Homo sapiens: one gene and its partner. The protein of the gene in region 1 interacts with the protein of each later gene in a biochemical or structural test. Each region holds a gene or a part of one and is shown in the gene's direction. Other genes may lie near its edges.

Region 1 (4,169 bases):
TAAATCAAGTACTTAGGCAGGCCAGCTTTGCCCTGAATAGCTCAGCTTTGTCCATTCCCTCTGGCCTTCAGCTTGTGCCAGCTTGGAGGAAACCTCTGGCTTCTGCCAGTCCTAGCCTGGCCCAGTCCAGGCCAGCATGACCCAGGGTGTGTTTGTCCACATGAAACCCCTTTGGGTTAAGAAAGTTTGTGGTTTGTGAGGCTGCAGCTCAGGGAGGCAGGGCAACACAGCTCTTGATTTAACTTTTTTCATTTTATTTTCATTTTTAGATAAAGGGACAATCAAACTCAAGGTAAGCCGTTGATTTTTAAAATCATAAACCTGACCTTGGAAATAAAGAATTGAATTGGGCCAGGCGTGGTGGCTCACACATGTAATCCCAGCACTTTGGAAGGCCGAGGTGGGTGGATCACCTGAGGTCAGGAGTTCGAGATCAGCCTGGGCAACATGGTGAAACCGCATCTCTACTAAAAATACAAAATTAGCCAGGCGTGGTGGCACATGCCTGTAATCCCAGCTACTCGGGAGGCTGAGGCAGGAGAATCGCTTGAACCTGGGAGGCGGAGGATGCTGTGAGCCGAGATTGCACCATTGCACTCCAGCCTGGGCAACAAGAGTAAATCTCCGTCTCACCAAAAAAAAAAAAAAAAAGAAAAGAAAAAAAAAAAAGAATTGAATTGGGATGGAATAAGAGAAATTGCATGTGTTGTGAGAAAAATCATTTTTAAAAAAGAGATGTAAAAAATGAATAATGAGGCTGGGTGCCATGCTCACATCTGTAATCCCAGCACTTTGCGAGGCTGAGGTGGGTTGATCTCTGGAGCCCAGGAATTCAAGGCCAGCCTGGAAAACATGGTAAAATCCTGTCTCTACAAAAAAAAAAAATACAAAAATTATCCATTAGCTAGGCATGGTGGTTCACGCCTGTTCTCACAACCACTTGGGAGGCTGAGGTAGGAGGATCGCTTGAGACTGGGAGGTTGAGGCTGCAGTGAACTATGATCGCACCACTGCACTCCAGCCTGGGCAACAGAGTGAGGCCCTATTTAAAAAAAAATGAGAGAATAATGAAATTTAGAAAAGGAGAAATCCACCGATAATCCAGTTTTCATACTTTTCACTTTTTCATGTTTTCCACACATTCTTGTTCATGCACATACATTTTCTTTTCATAGTTTCAGTTAAAGGACACACACCACTGGCCGGGCGCAGTGGCTCATGCCTGTAATCCTAGCACTCTGGGAGGCCGAGGAGGGTGGATCACCTGAGGTCAGGAATTTGAGACCAGCCTGGTCAACATGGCAAAACCCCATCTCTACTAAAAATACAAAAGTTAACTGGGCATGGTGGCGCACACCTGTAATCCCAGCTACTCGGGGGCTGAGGCAGGAGAATTGCCTCAACCCATGGGACGGAGGTTGCAGTGAGCCAAGATCTCACCACTTCACTCCAGCCTGGGCAACAGAGTGAAACTCCGTCTCAAAAAACAAAACAAAACAAAACATAACAAAAGAAAACAAAACACCGTGGTGTTTCCTAGTCCCTCTTATCACACTGTTGTAAACAACTTCCATGTTTCCAAGTCTCTGTAATTGGAATTTCCATTTCATTGTAAGCAGCATCCTATTGCACCCCTCTTAAATATCAGTTTGCTAAGCCCCCAGCTAGATTTTTTCTAGATTGTTTCAGTGGTTTTTTTTTTCTTTTTTTTTTTTGAGATGAAGTCTCACTCTGTCTCCCAGGCTGGAGTGCAATGGTACAATCTCAGCTCACTGCAACCTCTGACCCTGGTTTCAAGCGATTCTCGTGCCCCAGCCTCCCAAGTAGCTGGGACCTCAGGCATGCACCATCAAGACTGGCTAATTTTGTGTGTGTGTGTGTGTGTGTGTGTGTGTGTGTGTGTGTATTTTTAGTAGAGATGGGGTTTTACCATGTTGGCCAGACTGGTCTGAAACTCCTGACCTCAAGTGATCCACCCACCTTGGCCTCCCAAAGTGCTGAGATTACAGGCATGAGCCACCCTGCCTGGGCTGTTTTCAGTGTTTTGATACTGTAATCCTTAAGTCGCCAGAATGTTTGTATGTAAAGCCATATTAGCATTCTGGATGCCTTCTTTAGGCTAAACAGCCAAATTGAAGAATTACCAGCAGGACCCAAGCCTCTCACTGGGTCTTGCTGTGTCCTGGAATACACAGCAGTACCTGTTCATGGAACCACCTGCAGTACATTAGGGATCAGATTTCTCCACTGCCTCTCAGACATTGAATATTGTTATTTTTAAATTATTATATGTACCAAACTATGTAAATAATTTTATGACATGGGTTTTCAAACTGGAGTCCTTGGATTTCAGATATTATGTAAGCCCTGGAATTGCGGCATTTGGGGGGTTAGCTATTCCTTAACTTTTACCACATGCTCAAAGGAGTCTACGAATGAATGGGCTAAATTGAGAATTATTTTAAATTATAAGGCGCCCATCTCCATTGATCAGAATGGAGGCTGAGATAGTTCCTTTTGTATGAGGTATACCACTAGTGCCTATTTGCTGCAGGACAGTGGTCTTCCTGCCTTACTTTTTTTTTTTTTTTTTAAGCAGTCTTGCTTTTTCTCCCAGGCTGGAGTGCAGTGATGCAATCTTGGCTCACTGCAACCTCCGCTTCCTGGGTTCAAGTGATTCTCCTGCCTCAGCCTCCCCAGTAGCTGGGATTACAGGTGTGCACCACCGTGCCCAGCTAATTTTTTTGTATTTTTAATAGAGATGGGGTTTCATCATGTTGGCCAGGCTGGTCTCAAACTCCTGACCTCAGTTGATCTGCCCACCTCAGCCCTCCCAAAGTGTTGGGATTACAGGCGTGAGCCACAGCACCTGGCCCCTCCATTACATTTGATGATAGAACCCTTTCTCTAAGGCAGCAGTTCTCACTCAAGGGGGCTTTTGCCCTACAGGGCACATTTCGTAAAGTTTGGAGACATTTTTGGTTGTCACAGCTGGGTTGGGGCTGGGCGGTGCCAGGTGCTACTGGCATCTGGTGGGTGGAGGCCACAGCTGCAACTCAACATCTTACAATGCGCAGGATCCCTTACAGCAAAGAAGGATGTGGCCCCAGAAGTCCACATTCAGGAAACCCTGAACCAAAACCCTAGAGCAGCAGTCCCCAACCTTTTTGGCACCAGGGACCAGTTTCATGGAAGACAGTTTTTTCCACGGACCAGGGAGCAGAAGAAATGGTTTCAGGATGATTCAAGGGCATTCCATTTATTGTGTGCTTTATTTCTATTATTATTACACTGTAATATATAACGAAATAATGATATAACTCACCATAACTGAAGAAACAGTGCAAGCCCTGAGCTTGTTTTCCTTCAACTAGATGGTCCCACCTGGGGGTGATGTGAGACAGTAACAGATCATCAGGCATTAGATTGTCATAAAGAGCATGCAATCTAGACCCCTCCCATGCACAGTTCACAATAGGGTTCACACTCCTATGAGAATCTAATGCCACCACTGATCTGATGGGAGGCGGAGCTTAGGCAGTAATGTGAGTGATGGGGAGCGGCTGTAAATACAGATGAAGGTTCATTTGCTCACCCACTGCTCACCTCCTGCTGTGTAGCCCCATTCCTAACAGGCCATTGACTGGTACCAGTCTGTGGCCCAGGGGTTGAGGGTCCCTGCCCTAGGGCTTCAATGCCTACAGAAGCATAAGGAAAAAAGAAAAAAAAAAAAAGACCCTAGAACTCCCTTTCCTGGCTTCCTGTGATTGGATTTCTTTTCCTCCCTCCTCCCTTCCTTCCTCTCTCTCTCTCCTGCCTTTCCTTTGTGTGATTAGATTTTTCTCTCTCTTTCTCTCTTTTTGGAGACAGAGTCTTGCTCTGTCGCCCAGGGTGGAGTGCAGTGGCACGATCTCAGCTCACTGCAACCTCTGCCTCCTGGGTTCAAGTGATTTTCCTGCCTCAGCCTCCTGAGTAGCTGGGACTGCAGACGCCCCCACCATGCCCAGCTAATTTTTGTATTTTCAATAGAGGTGGGGTTTCACCATGTTGGCTACTGTGGTCTCAAACTCCTGACCTCAAGTGATCCACCTGCCTCAGCCTCCCAAAGTGCTGGCATTACAGGTGTGAGCCACTGCACCCAGCCTAGATCTGCTTTCTTATGAGTCAGG
Region 2 (2,735 bases), on another chromosome or scaffold:
CCCAGGATTTTTTTTTTTTTCCCGTGAAAGTCCTCAAGCCTGTCCTCTCCCTGGCCCGATCCTATTGCAGCGACAGAAAATCAGCAGCGGGCGGGTCTGTGTGGACCTGAGGGCCGCGTGGGGACCGAGGGGGGCTGTGGCCCAAAGAGTGGCAGTGAGTGGCGTCAAGGAACCCACACTCCGCATCTGCCACTCCTAGAGCCGGGACTAGCTCCCGATCCTAGCAGTTGCTCTCGAGATCATCCCGGGAGTTATTGGCGAGTTCTGGGCCTCTGGAGGTTTCCCTGTCAGCCTCCCCGGCCGCCGAGGGGGCGCGCGCCCAACAAGGGGGTCTCTAGCGGCCACCTGGGGACAGAAACAGTGACCCTGGGCGCGCACTTTGCCTCCCCGTTAGAGATGTCGCCCACGGGATCCTTAACGAGGCCTACCGCAAAGTGCTGGACCAGCTGTCCGCCGGGAAGCACCTGCAGTCGCTCGTGGCCCGGGGCGTGGGGTAAGAGTTTGTGGAAGGATTAACCTGCGCGCGCCGGGGTGGGTGCCTGTGCGGGGCGCGCGGGGCGGGCGGCGGTGGGTGCCCGTGGGGGCCAGGGTGAGTCTGCGCCCCTGGGTCTGGGGTGGGCATCCGCCACGGGTCGCAGTTGGAGATTTTGAAGTGGCACTTTAAATTTGCCCAGAGAGCTCTGGAAGAGGCAAAAAGGGAACGCGAGCCAGGGAGTTTGATCCGTTTTGAATGAAAAGAAAGAGAAACCAAACCAAACCTCTCAGTCATCCAAAACCTTCAGGCTTCCAGGGAGGTTTTGCTATAATTTTCTCTAAGCATGACTGTTTCTGGGGGAGGGGAAAGGGGTGGTTGTATTTACTGAAAATTCAAATCGAAATAATAAATGGCCAAATGTGGACACTTATGGACCCAAACAGTTTTGCTCACGCCAGAGAAACTGAGAGCACAGGGCTTGTGTGAAGCCTATCTCGGCAGAAGGCAACATTCTAATAAAGCCCGTGGGAAAACAGATTACATTTTCGCCATGAATAAGTCATGCAGTGAAAAATATTGCCTACAGCCTGTCGACTTATATTATTATCACGTTTTTCAACTCGGCGTGAGGAGGGAGAGGAGTGTTCATATTTGACTAGGAATTGCAGGATCGATGCAAACTCCAGGGCAGCAGCCAGACTGGCATATGTAGGGCTCTCCGGTTACTTTCTCTGTATGTCGCGGGTGAGAGGAACAGCGAGGACAATTTAGCGCAAACACACGAAGGGTCGGATCTCAAGGGGGCAGCGCTGGGAGAAAGGTTAGGCTTGAAGCGCGCGTCGCCTGCCCGGATCTTATCCCGGGCCCCCTCCGCAGGGTTTGGTGCCAGGAGATCCTGCGTGGGGAGGGGGGCATCGAGGGGCTGCCGTCTCGGCCCTCCCCACGGCTGCTTCCAGGCAGAGGCGGGCGACGCGGTGGGCAGTGCGAGCCCCGGGCCCTCCCCGAAGGCTCCCGCGTGGGGTGGGGCCCGCCTGCTCCCCGCGGCGATTGAACCTGTGTCTCCCGCCCCGCCACCCTCTTCCCGACCCCTTTGCTTGCAGTGGGAGCCTCGGCGGCGGCGCGGGGGACGACGCGGAGCCGCTCTCCAAGCGCCACTCGGACGGGATCTTCACGGACAGCTACAGCCGCTACCGGAAACAAATGGCTGTCAAGAAATACTTGGCGGCCGTCCTAGGGAAGAGGTATAAACAAAGGGTTAAAAACAAAGGACGCCGAATAGCTTATTTGTAGCGATGGGTTACCAGCTACCCTGTGTATACAGCCCTGACGCAATGAAAAGTCGTTTTCCAAACTGACTCAACAGTCATCGCTCGTGTGTTCTATCCAAACATGTATTTATGTAATGAAGTAAAGCCATTAAATGAATATTTTGATAATAATATTGTTTTTCTTTCTACAAAGCACTAGAGAATGCACAGATATACTTTGTGGACCAATTATTGATATATATTATAAATATATATAAAGAATATATATATATATATATATATATATATATATAAAGTATAGAGAGAAGTTCATACAAAGCGTGCACAAGGATTGAAAATTCGCCCGAGCTGTTTATGTTTTTATAAAAATAAATAGAAAAGTAGACAATCATTGTTTTGAATATTACTCCTATTTTTGTAAACTGGAATTAAAAGGATAGTATTTTTATCCATGACAGGCCTGAAGATATTACTACTTACCATTTGCTACTGTACATAAACAATGATGCCCTGCTCCAGGGAGATTTTGAGGTAAAGATATGGAGAATTGCTGAAGGGCATTCTTTCCCAGTGAGTCTCTGGGGCAGGCTGCTTCAATCCCAGCCTAACTCAACTGGGCTCTGTCCCCCTGGTTGGGTGGCAATTCCAATATTTCTGCTTTCTTTGATTCTCCTTTTATGTGTAGTTGTCTCTCTTCAGACTCTCAGCCCAGAAGAAAATTCTCCTGATAAAACAACAGCTCGATCCAAATTGTGCTTCTCCCCAGAATTCACGCCTCTCCCTAGGAGAAGAGTTGAGGAACTGTACAGAAAAGGGCGGCTTCGTTAGACCGCTCTCTTTTCTGTACTTCCTGAGTGGCCAGGGAATCTAATATCCCCAAATTAGGGCAATTGGAACAAAGTGAAGGACATAGAGGTATATTGGAAGAGGCAGAGCCTGAGGTGGTAGGAGGAGGACCCTGGAAATGGACTGGTTTGAGATTGCCCCAGGTC

Evidence for each region. The genes of interacting proteins can lie anywhere in the genome.
Region 2: the proteins of CPAMD8 (region 1) and ADCYAP1 interact in a test that uses a peptide from one of them, tested with the Homo sapiens proteins (one study listed by BioGRID).

The regions. Positions count from the first base shown.
Region 1 is NC_000019.10:17,016,454-17,020,622, reverse strand, and holds part of CPAMD8 (C3 and PZP-like alpha-2-macroglobulin domain-containing protein 8 precursor), read left to right. Parts: intron 1-269; coding exon 270-292; intron 293-4,169.
Region 2 is NC_000018.10:907,871-910,605, forward strand, and holds part of ADCYAP1 (pituitary adenylate cyclase-activating polypeptide preproprotein), read left to right. Parts: intron 1-394; coding exon 395-493; intron 494-674; coding exon of another isoform or gene 675-720; exon of another isoform or gene 721-1,562; intron 1,563-1,575; coding exon 1,576-1,765; 3' UTR 1,766-2,735. UniProt on the Homo sapiens protein: PACAP is a neuropeptide involved in diverse array of physiological processes through activating the PACAP subfamily of class B1 G protein-coupled receptors: VIP receptor 1 (VIPR1), VIP receptor 2 (VIPR2), and PACAP type I receptor (ADCYAP1R1).